2 linked regions of the Homo sapiens genome follow. The protein of the gene in region 2 purifies or fractionates together with the protein of the main gene of each other region. This does not show direct contact. Each region holds a gene or a part of one and is shown on either strand. Other genes may lie near its edges.

Region 1 (4,782 bases), on a different chromosome or scaffold from region 2:
CAACAATTAGAGATTACTGGTTGGTTTACAAGAATACGCAGGGTTAGCCTAAATTGCAGAAACAAACTTAAAAACAATTAATGAGACCAGAATTTAATAACAAGTGTACCATAGTTTTTGAAACATAGTATTTCTCTCTCCAGTTTCCCATTTTTACTAAAGACAAATTATGGTAAGACTGACTTGCTTTATTATACTTGGCCTGATTGTTTGTATAAAGTGCAGCAAGAATAATAATTTTTCACATAGGCTTTTTAATTGGCTTTGATGGAACTCTGTTTCATAAGGAATCTCAGATAAGACTTTTTTAAAAGCCAAGCCCTGACATGGGTTTGTACCCTTAAATACCTATAACTTGGGTAAATTTCTCTCCTTTTGAGGTCCCAAGATAACTTGGGGCTCCTGGACAGGTGAGAAAGTGACATTCTTTACTTACCATAGGTCAGAAACCCTGTACAGGCACTGTGTAGGCAAGGTATGAGGCCAGTTCCCCAAAGGGCTTTTATTGGCTCTACAAGTCAAGTTTGATTCCTTAAAGAAAAGCACACCATTTCAGTCAAAGCCTTGGTAAAATAACCACTTTCTCCAATTGTATTCTGTTACAAAAGAAAACAGATTCTTATTGCACTTATGCAAATAATTACATTGCCATAAGTTAAGAATACTCACAACTAGTTTCCAAATTCTGGAGAAATCTGATATAGAGAAACAAATATGTTCCAAATTTCGTTCACAGCAGTATACTTTACTCAATTGCTATGAACTGTAAATAGCTCAAATGAAAAGTTTCCTTGACTCTGAAAAACAAAACAAAGGATCAGCAACATTTTAATCAAAGATTACTTCAGTTTTCTATTGGTTCAGTTGATTCAATTAACTCATGTTTCATTTGATATTCATGAACATTCTAGCTCTTCATGAGTTCTGAAAGTTGTTTCCTCTATTCTAATGTTACAATTTCCAAAGTTATTAGAAACCTGCATTTAAGAACACCTGCTAGAGTTCTATAGCTGATTATAAATCATCTTCTAAACAGGATTAAAACAAGACAACAATTGTCTGTGGATGATAAAAAGTTTTAGGAGAGCCACTATTAAAGCCAGAAATGATAAGGAAATTTGGTTACTTCTGTGGCACACAATATTTTGCATAACAATTATAATTATTAATAACATACACTAAATCATATTAGAATTATAGGAGTTTCCCATAACTTTGGAACATATACCAATAATACAGTTATGTAAATATAATCCAAAGAAAGCAAAACACCATTTGACATTTGATAATGCTTCCTGTATGAATTTTTTTTTTTTTTGAGATGGAGTCTCGCTCTGTCACCCAGGCTGGATAGAGTGCAGTGGTGCAATCTCAGATCACTGCAACCTCCCCCTCCCAGGTTCAAGCGCTTCTCCTGCCTCAGCCTCGAGTAGCTGTGACTACAGGTGTGCGCCACCATGCCCGGCTAACTTTTGTATTTTTTGATAGAGATGGGGTTTCACCATGTTGGCCAGACTGGTCTCAAACTCCTAACCTCAGGTGATCCATCTGCCTCGACCTCCCTAAGTGCTGGGATTACAGGTTTGAGCCACTGTGCCCGGCCAACTTAGAATAATTATTTAACTCTTTAGCCAAAAAACCCCACATTTCCATGCCTTCTTATAATCTTTTACCAAAAGTACATTCTATTTTCCTTACTACACACCTTACATGTAAAACTGTCTCTTCAATAGTCTCAGTTACATGTTCCAATTTTAACTTTTAGCGACTTTTACTTTTGGTGAAAACCCTGGTTAGTAAGCAATTTTAATTATGTACTAGGTGTGGAGCCTAGCCTAGGACACACCAGGCAGAAGTGCAGATAAGAGCTGACTCTCCAGCACAGCTTAGGGGCGTGGCTAACTCCACATGTCCCCAGGCCTTATCTAGAATCTAATGGCTTTAAGGTAGGGTAAATTGAACAATTTTTAAAAGTCAAAGAAACAGTTTATGACCTCAAATCATTTAACAAACTTAATATCTGACCTGCATAATTAAGATTAACATTTTTATCAATTTTAAAGATGTGTTTATTTCCTAAAGATTACTAAAGTTACATGAACTAAAAGGCATTAGTTATTTTGCTTTCAAAATATTTGATTTAAATGTTTATTTTTGTTTAAGCTGATTAATCAGAGCTCTTTTATATAAATATTACACACGACACCTATATAGCTACACAGAAAGACAGATGATGATGATAACAGTGGTTGTAAGATTTTTCATTTGCCAGTTTTTAAGTTTCTTAATTGGATTACCGGCTTCAGGGTGGAGCCCTTGGAAGAACAGGGCCACGAAAGGGGTCTCTGGTGCCTCTTGTTTTTCCCAAGGAGTCCAGGCTGTTAGAGCTTGAATATCCACTTTTAATTAAACTTATTTTAACCATAGCACTCTTTAATAAAGTCCTTTTAGAAGTTTTTATGCCAAACGGCTGGTATTTCTGGCTTTTGAATTTTATCAAAGGTAACCTCCCAGGTGCTTAGAAAAAGGAAAATATAAGACAGTTCACAGAGGAGAAGAGAATAGACAAAGTCATGCAGATATTAAACCAGAAACGACTTACTTCCTAGGTGGGTAATTGAACCTGGACTGTTGCCACGGAAGTGCAAAAGCTGGCTGGGTGCGGTGGCTCATGCCTGTAATCCCATCAGTTTAGGAGGCTGAGGCAGGTGGATCACCTGAGGTCAGGAGTTCGAGACCAGCCTGCCCAATATGATGAAACCCCATCTCTACTAAAAATACAAAAATTAGCTGGGCGTAGTGGCACACACCTGTAATCCCAGCTACTTGGGAAGATGACGCAGGCAAATCACTTGAACTCGGGAGGCGGAGGTTGCAGTGAGCTGAGATCGCACCACTGCACTCCAGCCTGGGCGACAGAGCAAGACTCCATCTCAAAAAAAAAAAAAAAGAAAGTGCAAAAGCTTAGCTACTGAGCTACAGCACAGGGCAGTCTCTGTTGACCTTCCCAGAAGGAGTCTAGAGTAGTTAATTTTGAGCTTATAAGGGCTTTTAACTATTTAATATTATTTTTAGAGCTAACTATGACATGAATCCTGAAATTCCTGTTCTCTGAAGGTGGGGACCAAAAGAAAGTACCACCACATGGTTAAAAGGTCAAGCTCCCAAGGACGTAAAACAAGGTGGAGACTTCATCCAGTCTTTTATTTGTTACAGGGACCTGCAGCCAAGTATCTTACTGACCAGCTTGCTGGGTCATCTTGAAAAGCGAGCTTACAGGTGTTCTTTTTTTTCTTTTTTTGAGATGGACATGGAGTCTCGCTCTGTTGCCAGGCTGGAGTGCAGTGGCACGATCTCGGCTCACTGCAACCTCCGCCTCCCGGGTTCAAGTGATTATCCTGCCTCAGCCTCCCAAGTAGCTGGGACTACAGGCGCACGCCACCACACCCAGCTAATTTTTTGTATTTTTAGTAGAGATAGGGTTTCACCATGTTGGCCACGGCTGGTCTCAAACTCCTGACCTCAGGGGATCCACCAGCCTCAGCCTCCCAAAGTGCTGGGATTACAGGCCTGAGCCACCGTGCCAGGCTGATTTTTTTTTTTTTAACCATTCACTTAACCATTTGTACAGTGAGAGAGAAGCCAGAAATCTGACTGGTAATACATTCTTACCCTTTTGCCAGCATCCCAGGCTTCTGGGTTCCCTTTCCCTTAGTGGTCCTAGTGTTCAAGCTTGCAGCATCATTGCCCTGGGGGCCAAGCCGTATCATAAAGGAAAATTATGTTTTTTCCATTCTGGCCAGAGCAAAATACGTGTGATAAAACAAAGACATTAGCCACTCCGCTTAGCACCCAATATCAAACTAGCAAGGCTTAAATTTGCCCCCAGATGGGCCTGTCATCTTTAATTCAACCTCCGACTTGGAGTTTCAACATGTGGCCTCTAGGTAAGATGGTTGCCCTGAGTAATAGAAAAAATAAGAAACGCAAAGTAGATAAGAAAAGTATTGCCTGTGGCAGGGTGGGGAAGCTGAAGAGCTTAGGGAGGCCAGAGAAAAGACCCACTCATTGCAGCCGACAATGAAAACCTCAGGCAGCCGCTTGTACGCAGCAAAGGGACCTTTTCCAGCAGTCCCATCAGCTCTCAAGATTCCCCTTTTATGGGGGGAGGGGGGAGGGATAGCATTGGGAGATATACCTAATGCTAGATGACGAGTTAGTGGGTGAAGTGCACCAGCATGGCACATGTATACATATGTAACTAACCTGCAAAATGTGCACATGTACCCTAAAACTTAAATTAAAAAAAAAAAAGACTCCCCTTTTAGAGAGGAAAAAGCTCCCCATGTCCCACGATCCTGTTCATGCCTAACTCTGTCACCCACAGCCATCAGCAAAGAGCGCAAGGCAGATTAATCCAAAGAGAACAGCAGTTAATATCCCATAGTGCCAAACCTGTTCTTAGCTGAGAGGGAGTTACCTGAGAGGGACTCTAACTCCCTATATCTTAGAAGGGCCTCCAACCCAAGGTCAGTCAAGCTTAAGCGTCCTTGCCTTTTATTAAGAGGGGCCTCGAACCCACTGTCTTAGGAGAGACTCCTAAACATAAATACTGGGTTTCCGCAGTATAGTCGCTTCTGTGGCCACCACAAATACGTTACAGGACCCCAACACTTACCCAAAGGTAGCCGTTGGGTCAGGGTTTCTGCACTATAGTCCCTTTGTGGTCGCCAGAAATATGTTACAGGACAGGCGTCCTGATCCAGGCCCCAACTGAGGGTT
Region 2 (5,573 bases):
CTCCAGATTCCTGGCATTGCCCAGCACAGGATAAGGAGCAGGGTTGGCGTGTGAGGCCTTACCTCTGGGAGGGCAGCCGCCGACGCATGCGGTGACAGTCCAGCACCCACTCCTTACGCACGATGCGGCCTCCCAGGCCTAGGACCTGGCTGTACTTGGGGGTGTTGGCAAAGGCACAGCTGGTGGGGGGCAGAAGTGAAGATGCCAGTTAGGTGTGATCTGAGGGGCAAAGGGGAACGAGACAGGGGAGACAGACAGAGAGAGAGAGAGACAGACAGACAGACAGATCATGAGATTGAGGTGGGAGAAACAAAAAGAGGTTGGAGACCAAGGGAGAGATGCAAAAATCAGAGAGAAGACAAAGGCTACAGAATGCAGTGAGAAAGAAAGCAAGTGAGAGAGAGAGAAAGCATGCAGCATAGTGGACACAGAGAAAGCACAAGGTGGAGGAGACACAGGGAGCTGGGGGAGAAACTGCAGCGGCGCAGGGAGGGGGGCGCAAGCCTACATGAGGTGCGTGCTGTCCCGGGTCCAGTCTGGCCGATACTTGGCCCCAAGCTCTAGGGCCTTATCTCGCAGCTCGGAGCGGAAGGGGTTCTGGAAGCCACTCAGCACCACTACCACACCCTGAAGGATCTTCCCCAGCTCCTCTGGGCCAGCTCGGGGTCGTCTGGGCTCGGTGCCTTCTCCTCGGGGTTTGCCTGTCACTGCCCCCTGTGCTCGGGCAGGGACTGGGGCTGTGGCTGGGGTACGAGTTGGAGCTGGCACTGGAGAAGACAAAGAGTAGATTAGGTTAGCACCACTGGGGGTCAACCCCCAGCCCCTCCTCCCTCAGACCCAGCAGTCCAGGCCCCAGACCCTCCTCCCTCAGACCCAGCAATCCAGGCCCCAGCCCCTCCCCCCTCAGACCCAGGGGTCCAGGCCCCCAGCCCCTCCTCCCTCAGACCCAGGAGTCCAGGCCCCCAGCCCCTCCTCCCTCAGGCCCAGGAGTCCAGGCCCCCAGCCCCTCCTCCCTCAGACCCAGGGATCCAGGCCCCCAACCCCTCCTCTCTCAGACCCAGGGGTCCAGGCTCCCAGCCCCTCCTCCCTCAGACCCAGGGGTTTAGGCCCTCAGCCCCTCCTCCCTCGGATTCAGGAATCCAGGCCCCCAGCCCCTCCTCCCTCAGACCCAGGGGTCCAGGCCCCCAGCCCTTCCTCCCTCAGATTCAGGACAGCAGGCTCCAGCCCCGCTTCCCCTAGGACACAGGAGCACAGGCCCCTGTGGAAACAAGGGATCTAGTTAGCTCACATTTAGGTCTCTTGGGAACAGATGGCGACAGCTGGGCTGGTGGTTTGCTGGGGGTCTTCTTTTCTTCTTGGTTCAAATCCAACTTCCTCTTCCCTTTGGGAGACTCCTGGGGCTGAGGGGATGGGGATGGATTGAGGCCTCCAGCTTCTCTCCTCCTCCACCCCACCAAAGTCTGATGATTTCACCTTGGAGGTGCTGCCTATGGCCCTGGAGACTGGAGAGGCTGAGGAGGCAGCACTAGAAGCCTGGAGGGTAGCAGCTGCATAGCTAGGTCCTGCTGGGTCGCTGGCTGTGACTATGAAGGGAGAAAGTGGATCCAGGATGAGAGGGCTGAGCCCCAAGACCCTTTCACTCCTATCTATGGGACACAGAATATTGTTGCCAAAACCCACCAGTGATCCAGGAGTCCCAGCCTCCAGACCTCTCAACCCTCAGGACACAAGAGGCCAGGCCCACCTTCCTCCACCCTGAGACCCAGGAGTCCAGGACTCCACTACCCTCCTCCCTCAGACCCAGGAATCTGAGCCCCAGCCCCCTCTACCCTCAGACCCACGAGTCTAGGTCTCAACCCTACTCACTCAGGACCCACGTTGTCCGAGCTCACCTGGGGATGTCTTGTTGATCCGGCTGAAGAAGAGAGCCCCCGGCCTCAGAGAGTTGGCGCTCTCATCCTCCTCCTTCACACGGAACTGGCCAAGCTTGGTCACTGTCACCTTCTAAGGTCCCGCAAGGTCAGTATTATAGGTGGGCTGCTGGCAGGTGGGGGTGGAGAGGCAGGGAGAAGGCCATGGGGAGTGACAGGTACAGCTTACCTGGGACGGGGCCTCTGCCTCATCTTTGTCTGGGGGGCTATGAAACCGTACAAAACTCAAGCCAAAGGGGGAGTCCTGGGAAAGGAGGGGTGGGAGTCAGGGAGTCTGGCCCAAGGACAGAGGCCAGGGCCCAAGACCCTTTTCACTCAGGGAAACCTCTTCCTGGCTCCTTCCCTCTCATGAACACCCATGTTGAAGGAGGGGCCCTGGCGATGGTGATGACAATTATAGGATTAAGCTGTTATGACTGAGCCCTAACTCTGAGTCTGGCTCCAAGCCCTTTTCACGCATTAGCTCTTTGGGCAATTGGCAGAGTCTACTAGGTGTCCCAGCGAATTCACTGCCCTATGCACAAACTCCTGCCTGTGGAATGGGAGGGAGTGCTGCGTGCCACTTCCAGAACACAGAAGTGTTCCAGGCTCTCTCCTCTGCCAGCTGGATGCAGAGCCAGAAAATAGGAGAAGTCTGGGTCCCTGCACGACCTCATAAGGAGAAGCCAGCTGACAGGCTAAACACTCCCCAGGACAGTTACCTGGGCAAGAAGCACACCTTTAGTGTGTGGCATCATCACATACTCCAGTCTCACTGTTACCACAGCTTTTAGCATCCCTTAACCTACAGCAACCCTGTAAGGATCAGGCAATGGAGGCCCAGAGAGCGTAAGTCACTTGCCCAAGATCACACAGCTAAAAAGTGGTATAGCCAGGACGTGAACTCAGTAATCAGACGCCAGATCTCCTGATGTTAACTACTAGGCCCACTCTACTAGGCCACCTCTCTAACAAGTCAGTTCCCCTCCTCCGATTCCCCTCTGAGATGCTGCAGTTCACCCTTCCTAGATTCCTCCGGGAGATGAAACTTCTCATTACAGGAAAGATCCCAAACCCATTTCAGGGAACGCAGGGACCCAGCCTCCCCATAATCCCATGGGACACCAGCTGTCTACTCCTCCCAGCCCTATGGGACTCAATATTGGCCCTTATTTCCCTCCTTGCCCAGGACCAAGGACTCTGCACCCTGGCTCCCACCCTAGGTACCTTGCTGTAGGGCTGGCTGCAAACAATTTTGACCCGGTCCCAGCGCTTCTCGGCGGCTGCCCGGACCAGCTTGTCAGGCCCAAACATGCGAACGCGGTTGGGGTTTGAGCCACTGCGGCTCTCGGAAGGGGACATGAAAGATGAGGTGACCAGAAGGACCTGGGTGGGAGAAGCCACAGTGCATGAGAACCAGGGCAGGTTGGCTTAGATGAGAGCTTCTAGGGGCTGGGGAAGAGGGCACAGGGCCCACACAGGGGACTGGGAGTCACTAGAATGTAGCTTGGGCCTAGATGTCTCCAGACCCTTTGTTTCTAGGCCTTGAGTCAGTCCTGCCCTGACACAGGCCCCAGAGGGATCTCTTTATCCTCCAGATGTGAGCGACCCTTATCTAAATTCTCCCATGGAGTCTTCCATATCTGGCAATACAGCGGGCTACATGTCCTAAGGAACTTTCCCGGCAGAGAATATTCAGTAAACTGGCACAATATTCAAACACCTTTTGGAAATGCACAGGTGAGTCAGCGGAAAGGCAAGGGGAATTACTAGAGGCTGGAAATGAGAAAACAGAATCCAGAGAGTCAGGCGAGCTGCACTAAGTATTAAGTGATTGTTTCTCAGCTCAAACCTACCCTCTACAACTCATCTCTGTGATCTGGGCCCGCACTTGGCAAACCACCTTTCTGCTTCCCTAGCTGATCGTGACCAGGCTCTGCCAATAGGGGGGGCAAGAGAGAGAGTTTGCAAGGCTGCAGGAGGGAGGAAGGACCAGCTTCTCGTGCATTGCAGATCCTGTGAGCATCACCCCCAGTTAAGCTTCTGCTGCTGCAGTGGTTCCTGCCTGCAGCAGCAGATGAATCCAGTTTGCAGTGTCCCAATACCTCCAGAAACAGCCTCATTCAGCCCCTCTCAGCAGCCGGTGGGGGAGGAAGCCCTCCTCAAACGATCTGAATTTCAGCTCCTGGAGCCCCACCTCCCAGTTTCCAAACATCTACGTTTCAATAATTCCTGCTCCTTTCTTTTGTTCCCCCAACCCTGGGAGTGGTAGCTACTCCCTGCGGTTGCTTCTCCCTCATATCTTAGTCTTCTAGTAACACCTAGTTACTGGTTCTTTCTATCAAATTATCTGTTAAAATAACTGGTGTGGTTTTAATCTCCGGGCAAGGACCCTGACTGACCCGGCAGCACTCATGTTGGTAGTTTGTCATGGTGCTGATCCCAGATAGCAAATAACTTGATTTTATTTATTATTATTATTTTTTTAAGAGACAGGGTCTTTCTCTGTCACCCAGGCTGGAGCACAGTGGTGCGATCATAGCTCACTGCAGCCTCGACCTCTGGGTCTCAAGTGATTCTCCCACCTTGGCCTCTGAGTAGCTGGGTCTAGAGATGCACGACACCACACCTGGCTAATTTTTTATTTTTTGTAGAGGCATGGTCTTGCTATGTTGCCCAGGCTGGTCCTGAACTCCTGGCCTCAAATGATCCTCTCACCTCAGCCTCCCAAAGCTATAGAAGTACAAGTGTAAGCCACCACACCCAGCTAGAACTTGATCTTTAAGGGTTATGCACGTGGTGGTGAAAGAGAACAAGAGAGAAAACCTAGGCTCCAAGCAAGGGAGAGTGGCATCTCAGAGATCCTCACCACACTGCATAGAACTGAGGACTCCCCAAAGGCAACGCCCACACTAGTTACATGAAGGGGAAATAAGCCTGTGGAAAGAGTCCCTGGGAGGCCTGTCTGTCTTGGCCTTAGCTTGGGGGGACACCAAAGAAGAGGTGAAAATTCTTCTCGGGAGAACTCCTCACAAGTCTGTTCTCTCAAGGAATTGAGAGTAGCAATTCATGTTAGCAATCTGCATTGAAAAACCCAAGCTGAGGCCAGGCGCGGTGGCTCACGCCTGTAATCCCAGCACTTTGGGAGGCCAAGGCAGGCGGATCATTTGAGGTTAGGAGTTCAATACCAGCCTGGCCAACATGGTAAAACCCCATCTCTACTAAAAATACAAAATTTAAGCCAGGCATGGTGGCAGACGCCTGTTGTCCCAGCTACTCGGGAGGCTGAGGCACGAGAATTGCTTGAACCCAGGAGGCGGAGGTTGCAGTGAGCTGAGATCGCACCATTGCACTTAAGCCTGGTGGACAAGAGGCCAGGAGTTCAAGACCAGCCTAGCCAACATGGTGAAACACCGTCTTTACTAAAAATACAAAAATTAGCTGGACATGGTGGTAGGCACCTATAATCCCAGCTACTCGAGAGGCTGAGGCACAAGAATCGCTTGAACCCAGGAGTTGGAGGTGATGGTGAGCCGAGATTGTGCCACTGCATTCCAGCCTGGGTGACGGAGCAAGACTCTGCCAAAAAACAAAAAACGAAACAAAAAGACTGGGCACAGTGGCTCACACCTGTAATCCCAGCACTTTGGGAGGCCAAAGCAG

The links. The genes of interacting proteins can lie anywhere in the genome.
Region 1: the proteins of XRCC1 (region 2) and ATF1 purify together in Homo sapiens (co-immunoprecipitation; one large-scale study listed by IntAct). This does not show direct contact.

The regions. Positions count from the first base shown.
Region 1 is NC_000012.12:50,766,044-50,770,825, reverse strand, and holds part of ATF1 (cyclic AMP-dependent transcription factor ATF-1), read right to left. Parts: intron 4,776-4,782; exon of another isoform or gene 4,679-4,775; intron 4,138-4,678; exon of another isoform or gene 3,673-4,137; intron 1-3,672.
Region 2 is NC_000019.10:43,551,509-43,557,081, forward strand, and holds part of XRCC1 (DNA repair protein XRCC1), read right to left. Parts: intron 3,297-5,573; coding exon 3,138-3,296; intron 2,176-3,137; coding exon 2,101-2,175; intron 2,005-2,100; coding exon 1,893-2,004; intron 1,584-1,892; coding exon 1,474-1,583; intron 1,401-1,473; coding exon 1,289-1,400; intron 768-1,288; coding exon 509-767; intron 180-508; coding exon 63-179; intron 1-62. UniProt on the Homo sapiens protein: Scaffold protein involved in DNA single-strand break repair by mediating the assembly of DNA break repair protein complexes. Negatively regulates ADP-ribosyltransferase activity of PARP1 during base-excision repair in order to prevent excessive PARP1 activity.